3 separate regions of the Homo sapiens genome follow, and all the other regions are linked to region 1. Evidence: fine-mapped expression QTL. A gene starts in region 1. Each other region holds a variant in brackets. All regions are shown on one strand. Distances are between the middles of the regions.

The links. PIP is the estimated chance that this variant, and not a neighbour inherited with it, causes the effect. A credible set is the group of variants that fine-mapping cannot tell apart.
Region 2: its variant is the best candidate, but not a certain one, in a credible set for the expression of MYO7B-AS1 in visceral fat (GTEx, PIP 0.76).
Region 3: its variant is the best candidate, but not a certain one, in a credible set for the expression of MYO7B-AS1 in subcutaneous fat (GTEx, PIP 0.56).

The regions. Positions count from the first base shown.
Region 1 is chr2:127,628,165-127,634,864 of GRCh38, forward strand. It overlaps MYO7B-AS1 (MYO7B antisense RNA 1), which reads right to left and starts at 2,620. Exons shown (of 3, transcript XR_923314.3): 1 at 2,211-2,620; 2 at 1,273-1,395; 3 at 1-349. MYO7B (myosin VIIB) reads left to right here. Exons shown (of 48, transcript NM_001393586.1): 34 at 208-371; 35 at 1,481-1,662; 36 at 2,614-2,744; 37 at 3,042-3,199; 38 at 3,436-3,589; 39 at 4,082-4,237; 40 at 5,094-5,199; 41 at 6,012-6,125; 42 at 6,432-6,519. RefSeq lists silencers at 4,653-4,742, 4,843-4,892 and an enhancer at 5,163-5,392.
Region 2 is chr2:127,661,316-127,668,015 of GRCh38, forward strand. The region is part of intron 1 of LIMS2 (LIM zinc finger domain containing 2); the gene reads right to left. Among named protein-coding and RNA genes, the nearest start is that of LIMS2, 11 kb to the right of the region's middle. RefSeq lists enhancers at 474-1,471, 1,509-2,049, 2,050-2,589. The variant A/G (reference allele first, on the strand shown) is at 3,856.
Region 3 is chr2:127,573,431-127,580,130 of GRCh38, forward strand. It overlaps MYO7B (myosin VIIB), which reads left to right. Exons shown (of 48, transcript NM_001393586.1): 7 at 490-632; 8 at 3,165-3,278; 9 at 4,703-4,856. Among named protein-coding and RNA genes, the nearest start is that of MYO7B, 41 kb to the left of the region's middle. RefSeq lists enhancers at 4,174-4,727, 4,776-4,825. The variant C/G (reference allele first, on the strand shown) is at 3,845.

The DNA of each region.
Region 1 (6,700 bases):
ACTCTCAGCCTCCGAGAGGTCCTGTGCTCCGCCGTCCTTCATTTGTCCAGACCCACAGTGGTGTCTGGCCTAGTCCTGGCCCTGGCAGAGCAGCTCTGTGTCCTCATCTGTGACTCAGGACCCCCAACCCCACCTCCCGAGGCTGTTTAGGGGCTGGATCAGGGGAAGGTGGAGGGGGCTCCTGGTCACGCTGTCCTTCATCTCCAGGGAGGCCCAGGGCGGGCAGAGGCTGCTGCTCTCCACGATGCATGAGGAGTACGAGTTTGTGTCACCCAGCAGTGTGGCCATCGCTGAGCTGGTGGCCCTGTTCCTGGAGGGCCTGAAGGAGAGGTCCATTTTCGCCATGGCCCTGCAGGACAGGAAGGCCACAGGTGCCAGACTGGGTGGGGTGGGGTGGGGTGGGGTGGGGTGGGGGAGGGCCGCGCATGGGGTCTGTAGGTAGGTGGCATGCTCATCTCCACACAGCAGCCACAAGGCAAGCAGAGGGAGGGAAGGCCCCAAAGCTCTGTGGGGGCAGCTTTAGGCAAGGCCCTGCCTTCTTTCAGCCACTGCTTCCTCTTCTACAAAATGAGGGGCTAAAGGAGGTGGTCTCCAGCCCTGCATAGGCCAGCCATGCTCAGCGCTGCACTGCTGCAGAAGCACTGAGAAAGGCCAGCCCCCAGCCCAGGGAAGTTTTGAACACCATCCCCACAGCGCACTGCTGCAAAAGCACCCCATTATCCCATTTTACAGACGTGAGGCCAGAGGCCCAGAGATGGAAGTAGCTCACCCAGGGTCACACAGCTCAAGGGGGTGGGAGCCTAGTTCTTGGCCACAGCTCTCCCACAAGCCAGCACTCCATCGAGAGCTGGGCTGTGTCTGTGGGCTATGGGGGAGCATGGCAAAGCCCCAGGACCCCCGCTGGGCCAGCCTGCTGGCCGGGTGGTCATGGGCGGTGGGTGGTGTGGTTAGTGCAGGGACTTCAGAAGGGGGTGCTGGTTGGGATGTAGCAGAAGAGGCTGTGTGTGGGGTCTTTGGGCAGTGAGAAATGTCAGCCGAGATGTGCTGCCCTATCGCCCCATTCAGTCCTCACGGCCACCGCAGGAGGGAAAGAGGATTGCCATCTCCAAATTCCAGATAAGGAAGGGGTCTAGAGAGGCAGGCAGCACTCAGGCCAGGCGTGGGGACTGCCAGCCTGTGCATCCTCCCCTCCCTCATCCCTGGCTCCTGGTCAGCCCTCCGAGGGTCTCCCAGGGCTAGGGCTGCAGTCAGAGCTCTCGAGCCCCCACCCACCCTGGGCTCTGTGCCTGTGCAGCTGCAGCAGGTGACAGCCGTCTGAGGCCCCTGAGGTTCCAGTCCCACCATCGCTCACTCTTGGAGTGGTCTTCTGCCCACCACTCTATGCCTCGGTTTCATCTGTCAAAGGAGATGACCCACAAAATTCCAGCACAGCCTCTGGCCCCTGCAGAGCCCTCAGCAAATAGCCTCCCTGCCCTTACAGATGACACCACCCTCCTGGCCTTCAAGAAGGGGGACCTGTTGGTCCTCACAAAGAAGCAGGGGCTGCTGGCCTCTGAGAACTGGACCCTCGGCCAGAACGACAGGACAGGCAAGACGGGGCTGGTGCCCATGGCCTGCCTCTACACCATCCCCACGGTCACTAAGCCCTCGGCACAGCTGCTGGTAACTGGCACGCTCCCCTGTCCTCAGCCTGGGTACCCGAGGTCAGGGTGGAGCAGTCCTGGGATGCCTAGTTGGGAGGCCTAGCTCAGGGCCTGCAGCCCACCTAGCAGAGGCCAGGAGGGCCACCCGGGCAGCCCCCACCATTCCTGCGGCAAGGTGTGTGTGCAGTGCCAGCCCAGCTCTTGGTACTTAGTAGGTCCTCAATAAATGGGTGTTCCCTCCCTCTTCCATCATGGGGGTGTCCGGGGGACAAACCCAATCTTTCTCTGCCTCATTTACACTCTGACCCAGGGGGACTCAAGTCTCTCCCTGCACAAGGGAACCACCCACCCCAGCCCCCAAGACCAGCCTCTCCGGAGGCAGGAATGGCAGGCATTGCAACATGTACATACTGAGTGCTGAGTATGTGCCCTGTGCCTGTGGTACGAGTCTGGGCATAATAGCAGCTCCACCCTCAGGGCAGACATTTGGGCAGATAATGACACATGGATGGCAACTGTGCAAAGTGCCACCAAGGAGAGGAACAAATAATAGGGTGGGGAACTTACCCTGTCTGGGAAGGCATCCCCGAGGGAGGGACATTTGTGCTGAGGCCTGAAGTTGGTGGCAGACTAGGCAGGCAGGGCTGGGGTGAGAGGTGGCCCCATGGAGAAGGGGAGCTGGGGAGCTGGGGGTCTGAGAAACCCAGAGTGCCGTGGCCCCCAGAACGGGTGATGTGGGTGCCACAGCCATTGGCACTCACCCTCCCAAGGGAAAGGAGACAGGCACCAAGAGGTAGAGTCATGGTCCTGGGTCACACGGCAGGTGACAGGGGTGTGGGTAAGCCCTGGCCTGTTCAGCCCTGGGCCTGACCCCTCCCAAGTCACTGAGGCTGCCAGGCCGGGAGGAGCCTGCAGGAAGGGCCTCATGGGCGGTGGCTCCTGGGCACCCACAGGCCTGTGCCCCCTTCAGAGCTTGCTTGCCATGTCACCAGAGAAGAGGAAGCTGGCGGCTCAGGAGGGGCAGTTCACAGAGCCACGTCCTGAGGAGCCACCCAAGGAAAAGCTGCACACCCTGGAGGAGTTCTCCTATGAGTTCTTCAGGTGCCCCCCAGCCCCGCTCCGCCTCATTGCACCCCCACCTCCCAGCCCCACCTCACCTCATTGCACCCCCTGCTCCCAGCCCCGCTCCACCTCATTGCACCCACTGAGAGCTGCAGAGAGGCCACGCCACCCATGTGGAGCCTGCCTGGCCTTCCCAGGCCAGGGGAGTCAGGAGGGGCTTGCGGCAGGGTGGGGTGCTCTGGCCCTCCCACAGCCACTCAGGGGTGTCAGAGGACAGAGAAGCGTGGGACAGAGAAGGCCACAGGGCAGGCCTCACACCAGCCTCTAACCTCACAGGGCTCCAGAGAAGGACATGGTGAGCATGGCCGTGCTGCCCCTGGCCCGTGCCCGTGGCCACCTGTGGGCCTATTCCTGCGAGCCGCTGCGACAGCCGCTGCTCAAGCGAGTCCACGCCAACGTCGACCTCTGGGACATCGCCTGCCAGATCTTTGTCGATATCCTTCCCCACCAGCCTGCCTGCACCTCGTCAATGCCAGGGCAGAGGCACCCAGCACATCCTGGCCCTACAGCTGTGCTCTAGGGCAGGAGAGCCCAGGAGATCTGAGAAACCTGGAGTGGCGGGACAGAGCCCACACATGGCTCACCGCAGGGCCGGGGTCGGGGTCAGCGTCTATCCCCAGTCTGTGTCAGCGTGGGGCTGCCCCAGCACTGTGCTCCTTGACAGCCACACCCATCCTCCGGTACATGGGCGACTACCCTTCTCGGCAGGCCTGGCCCACCCTGGAGCTCACCGACCAGATCTTCACACTGGCCCTGCAGCACCCGGCCCTCCAGGACGAGGTCTACTGCCAGATCCTGAAGCAGCTGACGCACAACTCCAACAGGTCTGCTGGGGCGGCGGCCAGCCCACGCGGGCACCCTCAGTCCTCATCCCGGCCCCTGAGGCCAGACCGAGGCTCAGAGAGGACACCGCAGCTGGTGGCGGCAGAACCCCTGCCTGGGCTCCTGCCTCAGCAGTGGGAAGGGTTGGGCCCTTGGTCTGCTCTGCTGATGTCCTAGGGGTGGTCAGAGCAGGAGAGGATGGCCCTGCCCACTCCCACCCTCTGTGTGTGACCTGGCAGGCCATGACCTCTCTGAGCTTCAGTGTCGTCTTCCACAAAATGGGTGCAATGCCCACCCGCCCCCATCTTGAGGGTGTGAAAGCCCGTGGCATCGGGCAGCCTGGCACAGCTGGCATGGTGCAGCCTGGCAGGTGCCCTCCCCCTCGGGCCCTCTAGACCCCAGGCAGCTCTCACATCCGTCCCTGCTCCCCAAGGTGCCTGCCTGGCCAGGGCCCCCTGAGGGGCCTTTCCCGGCTGACAAGTGCTACCCTTCAGGCACAGCGAAGAGCGGGGCTGGCAGCTGCTGTGGCTGTGCACGGGCCTCTTCCCGCCCAGCAAGGGGCTGCTGCCCCATGCCCAGAAGTTTATAGACACTCGGAGGGGGAAGCTGCTGGCCCCCGACTGCAGCCGCCGAATCCAGAAGGTCCTGAGGTGAGCCCAGTGCCTCCAGCCCCCAGCATTGGCCCTGGGCCCGCAGACCTGGGATGCTGTGGGGCCTGGCCAGCCTTCCAGGAGCTCATGGTCCTGGGAGGACTCTCCAGAAGCCAGTGTCAGCTTGGCAGGCAGGATTGGGCCCCGAGCTGCCAGAGAAGAGGGTGGAGGGTGAGGCCCAGGAGGGTCAAGAGAAGGCTCAGTCATAGCCACCAGCTCCCCTGCCCCACCACTGCCCAGCAGTGGCACAGAGGCACTGCCTGAGGGATAGAGAGAAACCTGGATGCCCCAGCCCAGGCCCTCAAGGCTGAGGTCAGAGGCCCATCCTTCCAAGTCCATGCGGCCTCCCTCATCCGCCCACAGCCGTGAAGCTCTTCCTTGGCCGTCTTTGCTCTCCCCCACCCCTCCTGCCTCCTCTGGCTTGGCCTCCTGTGGCCGTGAGGAGGGCAGGTTGACTGTAGGAGTGGCCATAATTTCAGTGGCAGCCGTGGTCACAGAGAGAGGTGGGCGCCCCATAGAGGCCCTGCCAGAGTCCCTGGCCCCTGCCCGATGCCCCTGTTGTGCGAGAATAAGAATACTGCCAGCCTTTCCTGCCGGCGCCTTCCCGGGAGCCCCTGGCCTGGCCCTTCCCCGTGTGTGCCCCAGGCTTTCAGGCACAGCTGCACCATCACTACCTCTGAGGCCGCGTGGAGCCAGGGGCAGCCCCCAGGACATGCGAGGGGCTGGAACCACCCCAGTGATGGTCACTGGGGTTTTCTTTTGTTTCTGGCACATGGTTTAGGGCCCACATCGGGGCTGGGGCATGGGTGAGGATGAGGGTGGGGGTGGCACCTGCAGCACACGCTGTCCCCCTCAGGACGGGGCCCCGGAAGCAGCCCCCGCACCAGGTGGAGGTGGAGGCCGCAGAGCAGAACGTCTCCCGCATCTGCCACAAGATCTACTTCCCCAATGACACCAGTGAGGTGAGGCCCTGCTCTGGTCTGCACGGCAAGTCTCAGGCCTCCAGAGGCCATGGGGCATCCTCCTTCCTGGCCCAGCCTGCTCCTTGGTAACCCCAGAGAGCCTTTTCTAGGGCTGTCCCATCCTAACCAGTCTCCCGCCCTCTCCCCATGGGATGCAGGCCCCACCTGCCCTTGGGTGCTTTGGAAGTCAGGCCAGTCCCAAGGTATGAGTTGGGGGATCCAGGCCCAGGACACAGGAGAGGACAGAGGGGTGGGCAGCAAGGGTGAGTCCCAGGACTTGGGGGCCCCTAGGGGCTTCTGACCATCTGGGGTGCAGGAGAGCAGGTATTCCCACTGTGTGTGCCTTGTGCACAGAGCCTGCCATGGCTGCTGGGGGAACAAAGGGGCCAGGGGGCAGGTAGGAGACCACCAGGACCCCACCGTGACACAGAGGCCTTGATCAGGGGCAGCAAAGACAAGCGGGCTGAGAGGCCAAAGTGGGCAGTGTCGCCTCGCGCCCTCTCCAACAGCACAATGGTCTTTTTGGCCTTGATATTCGGGTCCCGGTAACAGGAAGTTCCCACAGTCTGGCTGCTGGGCTCTCAAGGCGAGTCAAAAGGCCAGGCCTGCAGGGCCCCAGGACAGCGAATGCTGGGACTAAACAACATGAACCTCTGGCCAGGGTTCTGGAAGGGAGGCTTGCCCTGCTCAGGGCAGACCACATCCAACCCAAGTTTCATGAAGGAGCAAAAGTGCCAGGCTAGGAAGGCTCATCCTGGGCTGTACTGGCCCCTAGCCAGGCCCCGGGCCTCACCAGCTGCCTCTCTGTCCAGATGCTGGAGGTGGTTGCCAACACACGGGTGCGGGATGTGTGTGACAGCATTGCCACCAGGCTGCAGCTGGCCTCCTGGGAGGGCTGCAGCCTCTTCATCAAGATTTCAGACAAGGTGGGCCGGGCTGGGGCTGGGCAGACGGTGGGCGGACGGGCAGTGAGCGAGGCCCTAGGTGCTGCCTGTGGGGGCCTCAGCCTACCAGGGGCACCCATGCTGGACCAGGCTGCACGGCCAGGGCTGCTGGGACAGAGGTAGGTGGGGTCCTGGAGCAGAGCCAGCTCCACACGCCAATAGCCCACGCACAGCCGACTCCAGCGCAGCACCCAGGCCGTAGGCGGCCACTGGACCAGAACCCAGCAGGTTCTCAGGAGGACAGTCCCCGGAAGCCACCCAACTTCCCTGTACCTTCCCCTTCCCCAGGTCATCAGCCAGAAGGAGGGAGACTTCTTCTTTGATTCCTTGAGGGAGGTGTCTGACTGGGTGAAGAAGAACAAGCCCCAGAAAGAAGGTGAGGAGGCCTCTGTGGAGCTGGGGGAGGGCGTGGCTGGGTGGGTCGAGGGGGCACTGGCGGCCTCTGTGCGGCCCATGCCCATTCATCCATCCATTCGTTCCCGTGTGTCCCTGGGTTGTGGGAACAACCAGGCCCTGGGGCCCGGCGGTGAGGGCCAGCTCAGGCAGAAACAGGTGGC
Region 2 (6,700 bases), 33 kb after region 1:
GCACCCACGTGTCCAGCACAGAGCACCAGGCCAGGCAGGGCAAAGCGCTGGATAAGGAGAACTGTTGTTTTCCAGCAACTCTGGGAGCCTTCCAGAGTCCCTCTGCATGGCTCAGCCTAGGGGAAGGCCTGCAGGCTGCCTGCGGTCCCTGCGAGAGGTCAGAGGGTCAGAGACGTGGACATTCCATGTCCTCCTTTGCACATTCCTTCAAGATAGAGAGCACAGAGTCTGTCCAGTTATCCCCCAGGAGACACCACTACCCACCCCCAGCTGGACTACGTAGAACATACTGCCCAGGGCACACCCAGCCTGGAAGCCAAACCCCAGAGGTGGGGGAGAGCACACCATCTCATGCCCTTCCTCAGCCCTCTCCAGCACCCCAGAAGGCTCTCAGTTTTGACAGCCAATACAAGCCAATTTGTTGCAAGATGTCCCTGAGTCTGAGGTGGGATCAGAGGAGCCTGCTCTGTTCCAGGCCTTTGTATAAGGGGAGGAGGCTGGTTCCAGATAAGGAGATTGAAGCACAGAGAGAGTCAGTAACCAGCTGAGGGTCACAGAGGATTGGACTCATGTTCCTCCCATCTCCTCTTGGCATCCCCCATTCCGGATTCTGTTTCTTCAACAACCCCAGACCTTCCTCCATCCCAGCCTTCCTGATATCTGAGTCAAGGAAGTGTGTGTAAGGATCTGGGAAGAGTTGGGGGCCAGCCACAAGAAGTCTGGTCACACCCAAGATGAGCAAGTGTTGCTGAGGCCACGTCGGCCTGAGCAGCAGTCAGACCAAGGGTGTGTCCCCTATAGCCAGGCACACCAGGCTGCAACCCTGGCCCCGACGCCCCCTGTCTGTGTGACCTGCAGCACAGGACTCTGAACCTCAACTTCCTCGTTTATAAAATGGGCCAGGAATAGCTACCTCCAGGGACTGTTGGGAGGGTTCAGTGAGGCCATTCCTGCAAGCACAGCCCATGCTTCTGTCCTCCTTCCAACGAAGTCCTCACTGAGCACCTGCACTGATAGGCACTATTCCAGATGCAGAGGGTTTCGGGGAGGGACCCTACTGCAGCACAGCCCAGGGAGCAGCTCCAGTCCCTCAGCACTGCCTGGGCTTCCTCCCTGCCCCGCCTCCATGAAGCCAGCCAGAGGCCAGTGTCGGGTCACCTGGCCACATGAGGTCAACAAAAATGTACAAAAAGCCAGCCCACCATGGGGACGCTAGAAAATTAACATGCTGCCTGTTCTCACTCGTAGGTGGGAATTGAACATTGAGAACACATGGACACAGGAAGGGGAACATCACACACCAGAGGCTCTTGTGGGGTGGGGGGTGGGGGGTGGGGGGTGGGGGGAGGGATAGCATTAGGAGATATACCTAATGCTAAATGACGAGTTAATGGGTGCAGCAAACCAACATGGCACATGTATACATATGGAACAAACCTGCAGGTTGTGCACATGTACCCTAAAACTTAAAGTCTAATAATAATAAAATAAAAAAGAAAAAATTAACATGCTGCCTGGGCTGCTATACACAAGATGCATTGACACCATCAGAAACAGACTCCAAATCAGTATGAAACCTGTCTGAAATTAGAGCTTTTTTGAAGCCCTTGCCATATCTCTTTGCTCTAGTGGCTTTTCTTTTAAGCAGGTACAACTGAAACATGTTACACTAACAACAAAGAACTGACAAAGGACATGAACCAGAAGTTCAAAGAAAAACAGTGTGAATAGTCACATGCGCATGCATGCTCAGGGCTGCCCCAGGCCTGTCATCATCGTGCCTGTCCTGCCTGCATCTCAGCTGTGGTATCAGTACTGTGAAAATCACTCCAGAACAGCCTTGGGGCCATCAGTGCCCTGGCCACTCGCAGCCTGGTACCACAGTTATGCCACACGCATCCAGGGCTGTCCAGAGGTTGACCAGGGAGGGTGCCTGCTCCAGCTCTGCCACACTCAGGTGAGTGACTTGGCCTCCTGAGTCTGGGGGTCCCCACCTGAACAGCAGGCTGCCCCAGACCTGCCATGCCAGCACAAGCGGGAGCCCAGCATGCAGCAGGGACTCCACAGATGGCCGTGCTGCCGGCCTGCAGTTCCCGCCCTCCACTCGGTGCCCTCCTTCCTCTTCTGTTCTCAGCAAAAGATATCTTTGATGGCTCAGTCCTCTAATTGCCACTCTGGGAGCCTTCCCTGACCACACACAAGGAGCTGAGAGTGGGCTATGCTTGCCCTGGGTGGCACTGGCCTTCCTCTGCTCCTGGGTCCTCCAGGCCCTCCCCTACCTCTGCGACTTATGTTCCTGGCTCCCTCCCTGCCCCCCCGCCCCAGCCCTTCTGCCCAGCCTTGGCCTCCTCCCCAGGGTCCCTATCTGTCACCTTGATGCCAAGGACCCCAAGGTCACAGCCCTATTGCTCTCTCTTCCCCGCTGGCCCCTCGGCACTGCAAAGGCAACATTTTCAGGAGCTCCTCCTCATGCCCCTGACCCCAAGAGTGAGGGGAGGTGGCTCCACCACCATCCCCGTGCCCCTCCCAACCTCCCCATCCAGAGCCAACTCATTCTCTGAGATGCCCTGAGGACCATCCTGAACCCCACTGCTGGAGTCAGTCTAACCTGGGTTCAAATCACAGCATAGCCATGTTTGGGGTGGGTGAGTCCAGCAGGTGTCTGCTCTGCTCAGAACCTGTCTGCTCATCTATAAAGTGCAGCATGATCACCCCCGTCTGAAAGCAGTGCTGGGGGCTACACAGGCTCCCTCGTCTCTAACATAGGTCCCTGGGCGCACCCTGCCAGGAGAGCTGATCACAGGTGACATCCAACCCTGTTAGATAAAGTCGCACGCGCCCACCCTGTCGCCAACCCAGGGCCCATCCGACGCCGGGGCAGAGCCCACGGCGTCGGAGGGCCCCGGTCGGGTTTCCGAGGGAAGGCCTGCCCTGCCGCCGCAGCTTTCCGGCCATTGTCCCCGCCACCCGCCCCGCCCCTGGCCACCTACCCCGTGGCTGGCGGCGGGCTCTGCCGGTGCTGGCGCCGCCGGTACAGCCCCGACGCGGCCAGCGCACCCAGCCGGGCCGCCATGGCGCGGGGCAGCCGCCTTGAGGTCGCGGGCGCGGGCCGCCTGGTGCAGGGGCTATGGGACCACCTCGGAGGGGAGGCGCGGCCGCCTGGGGCCAGACACCAAGACGGGACGGGCGTGTGGGCGCCTCCCCCGCGCTGGTCGCGAGCTCACGTTACGCGCTGGGATCTCCAAAGGGCAGCAGAGTCAACTCCAAATAGAAAGGATATTGTTCGCGCCGCGGGGGCAGCTCCTGAAAGCTGAGGCTGGCGGGGGTTGGGTCCCGCTGGGAGGGGACTGGTCTGGGAAGGCCCCAGACAGCACTGAGGTGAGGTCCACAGTGGCGGCAGGACACCCAGGAGGTCTCCGGCTGCCACCTGCCAGGAGGAAAGCCTGTGCCCGTGGACACACTGAGGAGGGCAGAGTCAGCTGAGGAGGACAGGGAGGACCTGGCGCCTTTAGGATCCCTGCCAACAGTTAGGAAACCGAGGACCGGAGCCACACAGGCCCACATTCTGCTTTGCTCCCTTCTCTGAGACCCTCTGCCACAAACATCACCGTGGGGCACCCAGACCAGGGCAGAGCCGATCCTCTGGATCTGGCCAACAAATGGTCAGGCACCCCAAAAGAGGTCCTTATTTTAGAGAAAAGGCAATCCTCCAGCTTCCAGGGGAGCAGACGCAGAGGGACCTGGTGGCAACCACCAGGAAGGCACCATGTACCCCGCATTTTTACCCAGAGAGACTGGCAAAGTTACTTGTGATTCATAAACACCCGCGGTAGGCATCCAAACTGTGACCAAGGT[A/G]AGCCTGGTCAGCAGTACAATAAAGATCCAGAGCACTCATGGAAATCTTTAGCATTGATCCCATTTCCCTGAAAGACCTTTCTAGAAAGGTCAGAAAGCTTGAGCAGTATCTTCTTCTGCCTTCTGAAAGCAAGAGCTGGCAGCCGTCACTAAAGACAGCAGGGCACTGATCCTCCCAAACTAGGGTGGGAGAAAGCCTTGGAGGGGCTCACTGGCATTCAGATACCAGGCCCACACGCCACTGAGGAACACACTCACCCAGCAAGTCCCAACAGGAGGAGGTACTCATTAAGCACCCTGGCAGTCAAGTGACGACAAGCATTGGGTACAGTATAATTTGTAAATGTAGTCCAATTCCAAAGTTGCCCAACACTGATCAGTTCAACAAATAGTTTTTAAAGGTGGCCCCAGGGGCTAAAGGGCATGGAGAAGCTGAGCCCAGAGGAGCCAAAATGAATAGGGAATACCGCTGACTCTCTGATGTAGGTAGCCGAATGCTTAAGAAAACTTACACCGAAAATGTTCTTAACAGCAGCTACAAGTCAATGCCATAGGGCCTAGACCCTCTCACCACTCCCGACTCAGCCCATCCATGTGGAAATCCTCAACACTAGAATCCAGGACTCTCATGCAGACCCGCAGTTTTCTGTAAGGAGGAAACATTTATTTAGGGCTCCAAGGGTCACATATAGCACTGGAAAGGAGGCTACAGCCACAAGTGTTTTGTGCAACATAATCTGTAAATGAAGTTCAAGCACAAGTTTACCAAGTACTAATCAATTCAACAAATATTTACTATAAAAGCGGACATCGAAGGCTAGAAATTGAGAGAGGCTTAGAGTCTGATTGAGCCCAAATCCCAAATCTCTGCACAACCTTACCACCCATTCTGCAGCCTGTCCTGCTGCAGGGATGGGATTGGGAGCCACAGATACTGTAAACTGAATCTAGAACTCTATACAAAGTATTATACACCATGACCAAATGGGATTTGGTTCAGTGCTCTGGCTCTAGATATTTGCAAAAACACCGAGAGTGATGTCAGCAGAAAGTGGTGGAGTAAGGACCTCCAGAAGTTCATCCCTCCATAAAAGCAATGAAAAACCTAGCAAAAATTATCAGAATCTACTCTTTCAGAACTCTGCAAATCCACCAAAGGTTTTCAGTAACCCTAGGAACATTTGGTCAAGAAAAACAGATGAATCTTGGTAAACAAACAAACAAACACAAACCAGTGAGGTTTGTGTTGTTTTAACTTATCCTAGTCCCTTATTCCTGCTCCCTAACTCCATGGCTTCCTTGAATAATAATAGCTCGTGGTCCCAGTAAGGAGGTAGCAGAATGGAATATTATGAACAACTGTATGCCAATAAATGAAATAACCTACTGAAATGGAGAGATTCCTAGAAGGACACTACCAAAACGAACTCAAGAAGAAATAGAAAATCCAAATGTATCAGTCTAAATTTTCATACTGCTATTAAGAACTTCATGAGACTCGGTAAATTATAAAGGAAAGAGGTTTAATCGACTCACAGTTGAACAGGGCTGGGGAGGACTCAGGAAACTTATAGTCGTGGCAGAAGGCAAAGGGGAATCAAGGCACCTTCTTCACAAGGTGGCAGGAAGAAATACCAAGCAAAGGGGGATGAGCCCCTTATAAAACCAGCAGATCTTGTGAGAACTCACTATCACAAGAACAGCATGGGGGGAAACACCCCCATGATTGAATGACCTCCACCTGGTCTCTCCCTTGACACGTGGGGATTATAGGGATTACAATTCAAGATGAGATTTAGTTGGGGACACAAAGCCTACCCAAATCACTTAGTAAGGCCAGTAACATGTAAAGAGACTGAGACAGTAACCAAAAAACTTGTCACAAAGTAAAGCCAGAGCGACATGGCTTCACTGATGAATTATATCAAAGGTTTAACTAGAATTAACACCAAACCTACAAACAAACATACAAAACACCAGTGTGGTGGCACATGCCTATAATCCCAGCTACTCAGGAGGCTGAGGCAGGAGAATCACTTGAACCTGGAAGGCGGAGGTTGCAGTGAGCTGAGATCACGCCACTGCACTCCAGCCTGGGTGACAGAGTGAGATCTTGTCTCAAAAAGAGAAAAAAACAAAAAACAAAAAACAACAAACCTTCACAAAATCTTTCCAAACAAAAGAAAAGAAAGACTAGGAGGGAATACTTCACAACTCATTCTATAAATATTATCTTGATCTCAAAATAAAATGCTAAAGTCACATAGATGCAAATGTCCTCGATAAAATACAATAAATCTAACACTCTATAAAAAGTATTATACACCGTGACCAAATGGGATTTATCCCAAGAACATAGGGTTGGTTTCACATCCAAAATTCAATGTAATATACCATATCAATAGAATATAGGGAGGACACTCTATGACCATCTCAACAGATGCAGAAAACACATTTGGCAAAATCCAACATCTTTTCATAATAAAAGCACCCAACAAACTGGGAATAGAAGGGAACTTCTTCAATTTGATAAGGGGCATCTACCCAAAACCCATAGCTAACATCATACTTAGTGATGAGAAAATGAATGCTTTCCTCCTAAGGTCAGGGGGATTTCCAGTCCGCTATTTGTTTTCAACATTGCACTGCAGATTCTATCAAGGACAGTTAGACAAGAAAAAGAAATAAAAGACATCTAGTTTGAGAAGGAAGAGTAAAACTATTTTTATTTACATATTACATACTCATATATAGAAAACTCGGAAGAATCCCTCCTCAAAAAAAGAAACCCTATTTACAGATAAGAAATGAGTTCAGTAAGTCTGCAAGGTATACACTCAATATA
Region 3 (6,700 bases), 55 kb before region 1:
GCCTGGACACGCTGTTGGCACTCCCCATGCCGGCTTGGCCTCTCCGTATCAGCCTCAGCCCTGCAACCTGAGCCATCTTTCTAAGCTGTGAATCTGCTCCCACACTCTCTCAGAAGCTTTACTGCTTCCCTTATTACTGCAGAATGATTGCCCAAGTTCTGAGCCCGGCATTTAAGGCTCTGTGCCACCTGGCCCTACCTACTAACTAGTTCTGTCTACCTTCCACTGCTTTCCTCCTGCATCCCACACTCTGACAAGATTTCTGCGTCTGCAAGCACACTCCATGCTTTTTCTGACCTCCGAGGTTTTCCCTGCATTTTTGTCTTCCTCTTAGCGGGCGCTTGGCTTCCGTCACTGTCTGGTGCAGCCGTGCCCATTCTTCAATTCGAGGCTTGGCCACCTCCTCTGAGAAGCCCTCTTACATGATCCCACTCAAATTACATTTTCTCCTCTCTGCTCCCATCATGGGCATCGCCCGCTTACCTTCAGCCTTTGGAAATGCCAAGACAATCCGCAACGACAACTCAAGCCGCTTTGGGAAGTACATTGACATCTACTTTAACCCCAGCGGGGTGATCGAGGGCGCGCGCATCGAGCAATTTCTCCTGGAGAAGTCCCGGGTCTGCCGGCAGGTGAGGCCTCCCCCTTCCCAGGTCGGGAGTTGAGGGAATGGGGGAGGTTTCCAAGAGGGGCCCCTTTCCCACTCTCACCTCTCCTCCCCTCTTCCCCAAGGGCCCTCCCAGAACCCACAGGCCTCACTGGATAATGAGGGCCCTTCCCCAGTATTCCAGGACAGCAAATGATAGAAATTTTTCCATTTTGAGCAGGGCTTGGTGGCGCACGCCTCTAATCCCAGCACTTATGGGAGGCCAAAGCGGGTGGGTTACTTGAGGCCAGGAGTTTGAGATCAGCCTGGCCAACATGACAAAACCCTGCCTCTACAAAAAATATGAAAAAAAAAATTAGCTAGGCAGTGGCACACGCCTGTAATCCCAGCTACTTGGGAAGCTGAGGCATGAGAATTGCTTGAGCCTAGGAGGCAGAGGTTGCAGTGAGCTGAGATTGCACCACTGCACTCCAGCCTGGGCAACAGAGTGAAACTCTGTCTCAAAAAAGACTTTTCTCCATTTTGAATTTTCCATTCACATACATTTCTTCTTTCTTTGGTGCCTACCATTCCTCATCCCTACTAGAATTAATTCTGAGACTAGGCTAGTTGGGTGGGCCGTATCTTCAGGTATGTTAGGGGACATGGCAGAAAGACACAGATGACAGTATCCCAAATACCACATGGCCAGGAAGTACAGTGGCATGTGGCCTGTGTTGTCACACCAGGCCCTGTGCTCAGGGGGCCCCATGCTTGGTTTCATGCTCTGCTATTGCCACCTTGAAATTCTTACTAGCTTTTTAGCAAGAGGGCCCATGGTTTCCTTTTGCACTGGGCGATCATGTAGCCAGTCCCAAATGGTAGGAATCCCAACACATGGCACCCACAACAGCAGAATTAATGCACCTGTGTGTGTGTGTGAGTGTAAGGGGGTGCTCTCGTATGATGGCATAACACCTAACACATGCATGTGTGCAAATGAGTGCACACACACAGAAGGGGTCCAGAGGGGAGAATGCCACCAACAGAGGGGCTGTGGCTGTGTGAGAGGGACAGATGCCTCCGCACTGTGACAAGCTGAGAAGGAAGGTCACATTTAGTGACCCTCCGACCTGGTGCTATACTTTTCCTGTTTTATCTCATTTGACCTTCACAACCATGAGAGGTAGGTCTCTTTATCCCTATTGTACAGATGAGAAAACTGAGTCCAGTTAAGTTCGGCCCCTTGTCCAGGGTCACAGAGCCAGCAGATGGCAGAGTCTCTCTGCCCTGTCTGGAAGCTCCTATTTCTTGATATAGTGGTTGCTGAGTTCATAGAACTTGTCACCCAAAATGATACCCTGAAATGGGCAGGAAATTTCTAAAGCAGGTGAGAAACAAGGCCTGCCCAAGAAAAGAGAAAGAATTTAAAATTACGGCATATCTATACTACAGAGGAGGCGGTCTGTCCATGTCAATGTAAAGGATCACCAAGAGATATGTTTAGGTGAAAAAAAAGGAAGTAGCAGAACCACAAATATGTTTTGTGTAAAAAAAAAGAAACAAAGAAAAGAAAAGAGATAACTATTTATAGATATACTATAAGTAAATGTTTTTTTAAAAACATGTCTAGGTTCTGGGGCGGGGAGGAGGGGATTTAAGAAAGGGGAAGGCAGGATGGAAAGGAGCTCTCATTTTTTTGTTTTTGATCCTCCCACCTCAGCCTTTTGAGTAGCTGAGACTAGAGGTGTTTACCACCACATCCAGCTAATTTTCTTATTTTTTGTAGAGGTGAGGTCTCACTATATTGCCCAGGCTGCTCTCAAACTCCTGAGCTCAAGTAATCTTCCCGCCTCAGCCTCCCAAAACTGCTGGGATTACAGCCCAACTGAGACTCCCATCTTTTAACACTACTGCATATGCTTCAGATTGTTTGATTTGTATGAGAATGCATTTATAAATAGTGTTTTAAAAAATACAGAAGGCACCCTAGGCAACATGGCAAAACCCCATCTCTACAAAAAATACAAAACTTAGCCGGACGTGGTGGTGTGTGCCTGTGATCTTAGCTACTTGGTAGGCTGAGGTGGGAGGATGGCTTGAATCCAGGACTTCGAGGCTACAGTGGGCTGAGATTGCACCACTGCACTCTAGCTTGGGTGACAGAGCAAGACCTTCTCTCGGAAAAAAAAAAAATACTGAAGGCCTAGGGAGCCCCGTGGCTGTCAGATCTCTCGTGGGCCACTAAGTGCCTGTGAAGACTGTGGGACTATAAGAGAGCCCCGACTCTGTGCCATCACTCCTGGCCTGGAGACTTTGGGCACAGCAGTGTCAGGGCTTCGAGGAGCAGTCAAGATGCAGGGAAATGGAGTTCTCAGGGCAGGGATGAGACAGCCGCGGAGGCCCGGGACAGGGACAGCAACCAAGCCAGGCTGGCCCTGGGTCAGTGCCAGAGCTGCTCCTGGCTGAGAGATGTGGAGCGGAGGCCAGGGCTGGGCTGGGCAGAGGCAGTCTGAGGCCCTGAGGCCTCAGGGGAATGGCTCATGAATCTGTCTGGAATGCCCTCCCTCCCTCCCAGGCTCCCGAGGAGCGGAACTACCATATCTTCTACTGCATGCTCATGGGGGTGAGTGCTGAGGACAAGCAGCTGCTGAGCCTGGGCACGCCCTCCGAGTACCACTACCTGACCATGGTGAGCTGCCCACCTGCCGCCTCCCAGTAGCCAGTGGAAGGGAGGAAAAAGAGCTTGTGCCGCTCCACCCTCCGCGACAGCTGCAGAGAAGCCCAACGCTGGCCGGGCCCCTGAGGCGGGGCTGGTTCCCTTTGCCTCTCCTCGCCAGCCCCTCTCTGCTGGGAATCACCTTGCCCGCGTGCCTCCCGCTTCCCCGTCACATGTACCCCATGCCCCAGGCTGGACCCGGGGCCTCCCCGCAGACCTCATCTTCCTTTGGTCCCCACTGGATGACAGGCTCCCGGTGCCCAGTGGGCCACAGGGAGTTGCCCACATGCCTCCTGCTCCTGATTTCACTCCAATTGTCTGTCCTTGCAGGCCCCCTAAAACGTAAGCCCCGGGCCCCAGGAAAGCAAAGCCCTTCCTGTGCTCCCAGCTGCACCCGCCACCTAGGACAGGGCGGCACCACAGCCATCGCTCATTAGCTGAGGCTCCCTGGCCCTCAGGAGAACTGCGCCTCCTGGTTTATTGACCACAGAGTGGACCCAGAGCATTCTGCCTCTGGGATCTCTCCCATGCAACCCTCT[C/G]TCCTGGGTCCACTGCTCCAAGGCCTTCACCAGCCCCTGCCTAGACTTCATGGGTCCCCCATCGCCAGTCTTGACCTCTAATCTGTCATCTACCCTGCAGCCAAAGCACTCTTCCTGTAGGAAGGTTTGCACTGTAGTGTCATGCTTTGGATGGCACTGCTGCAGTGACCCCTGCGGCTTGTAGGGTAGAAGTCCAAACTCCTCCATGTGGTTTCCAGGTCCCTCCAAGATCTGCCCCTCTGCCGACCTCTCCCTTCTCAACACCCACCCCAGCCTCCCCGCAGCCCTGTCCCTGCCTCCCCACCTCGTGGCCTTGCTCCCATCATCCTCTGCCTAAACTGCCCTCTGTCCTCAGAGGCGGTGGGGCCAGCTCTGCACCTCCTCCAAGAAGCCTTTCTCCACCTCTCGATAGGGCTGGCCCCGGCCCCTGTGGTCTGGGCACCTGTAACAGGCAAATGGCCATGGCACGGTCACTGGCTCCCTGCCTGCCCCCCTGGATGCGCAGCACAGGGCCTGGCCCATGGCGAGCCATGGAAAGTGTTTCTTAAAGGAACAAACCCACAGTGTCCCCCAGAGAGACAAGGCAAGCTCGAGTAGGGACGAACGACAAATAGAGGATCAGAGAAGAAGTGTGACTTGGCCAAGGTCACACAGTGGCCAAATGCTGGTGCTGGTGGCAAGGCCTGATCATGCTGTGGCTACTGTGTCATGATTCTGCCTCTGAAAAGAGTTTTTGAGCGTGGACCCTACGTGGTCCACCCATTGCCTATGAAGTGCAGTGTCTCAGCCTTGCTGGTCCCAGGAGGGAGGTGGTGGGGCAGGGGATGGCCCCATTCACTGAGGCACCCTGTCCCTCAGGGGAACTGCACTTCCTGTGAGGGGCTCAACGACGCCAAGGACTACGCCCACATCCGCTCGGCCATGAAGATCCTCCAGTTCTCCGACTCCGAGAGCTGGGACGTCATCAAGCTGCTGGCTGCCATTCTCCACCTGGGGAATGTGGGGTTCATGGGTAATGCCGGTTCTGCCCCAACTGCACCCTTGGGGAGGGAGAGGGAAGGGGACAGGAGCAGGAAGGCATCTCTAGGGGTTCTCACAGGAAGGATCCTGTGGTCCAACCCAGGCCTGGAAAAATATATCTAAAAAATTCAGCTGTGATTTTGGAGGCCTCGTGAGGCAAAGGGGAAAATGTCAAAGCTTAAGGCTCTCCACAGGTGGAGACCGGCCAATCATCCCCCACTTTTAGCTGGGACCCAAAAGGGCTTCCCCCTTAAGGTTCAGGTAAGCCAGAGTAAACAAATCCACGTGTGAACTTGCAAACCAGGTTGTGAGCAAGGGGTGGTCTGGGGATTAAGTTGTCCTGACCTGTGAACACCCCCAAGCACCTAACGGCAGTTATTGACAGTCCTCGCTGGAAAAAAGCACCAGCAAGTTAGATTACAAATGATTCCTGTGAGTAGTTTTTCAAACACAACATCCAGCATGAAGCCAGGAAGAAATAGGAACAAGGAAATGAGATACCATGAACAAGAACCGGCAGAAATAATAAACAGTAGAAATCGATCCACAAAGATTTCAAAGTTGGAATTATTAGACACAGACTAGAGAAGTTCTGCTTATTTTGCTCAAGAAAAGAAGCAGCCAAGCTTGAAAATTTAGACAGCGAATGGGAAACTTTAAAGACATTATAGATTTATAAACAAACCACATAGAAATTCCATTCTAAAATTAAAAAAAAAAATAACCAAAAGGAAGAACCCAATGGATGGTTTAAGGGATTCTGTGCCTGTCTAGGAGATGGAATGTGTGAGCTGGAGGGAAAGTCAGGAGAAACTGAGTACAGCATGGAGAGAGGAATGGCGGGAGATGTCAGAGAGAAGGTGGAGACTGGGAGGACACCGTGGCAGAGGGAGCACACCTTTCATTGGAGTCCTAAAGGAAAGGAGAGAGAAAGGGGCAGAGGCAATATTTGAAGAGATAGGGCTGGTTCCAGAACTAAGGAGAGACCATTCTCAAAGCAATGGGAAGGGATAGACTTTTCATAAACTGTTCTAGAGCAATGGGGTGTCCATATAGAAAACAAAAGCTTGGGCCACCATCTCACGCCATGTGAGAATATTGCTTCCAGGCAAGCTGCAGCTGGGCTGATCTGTCGTCTATCAGCCAGACTGCACACTTCGGCCAGGGAAAGGTGGGTGCTAACCAGAGGTGGGCACCGGGGCCTGGGACAGCATCAGAAACATGATGCTGAGGAAGTGAAGCAGGCACAAGAGAATGCAGACAGATCCACTAACATAACATTTGTTTGTTTGTTTGTTTGTTTGTTTTTGAGACAGGGTCTTGCTTTGTTGTCCAGGCTGGAGTGCAGTGGTGGGATCTCGACTCACTGCAAACTCCACCTCCCAGGTTCAAGCGATTCTCCCACCTCAGCCTCCTGAGTAGCTGGGATTACAGGGGTCTGCCACCACAGCCTGGCTAATTTTGTATTTTTAGTAAAGATGGGGTTTCACCATATTGGTCAGGCTGGTCTCGAACTCCCAACCTCAGGTGATCCTTCTGCTTCAGCCTCCCAAAGTGCTGGGATTACAGACACAAGCCACTGCGCCTGGCCCACTAACATAACATTTAAAAGCCGGCACATTAAATGCTGTTTAGGGACTCTATGTAGGGAATAAAAAGCTAGGAAGTTAGAAGTCGGGAGGGTGCTTACCTCCGGAGGAGAGGGACACAGTCTCAGCCCGCAAGGACCTCGGAGGGCTGTGGGTGCTGGCAGATCCTAGATTTGGCTTTAGCGTGGTTACGTGGTGCTGACTTTATTCTTTACAACACAGCTTTGTGTTTTATGCACTTCTTTAT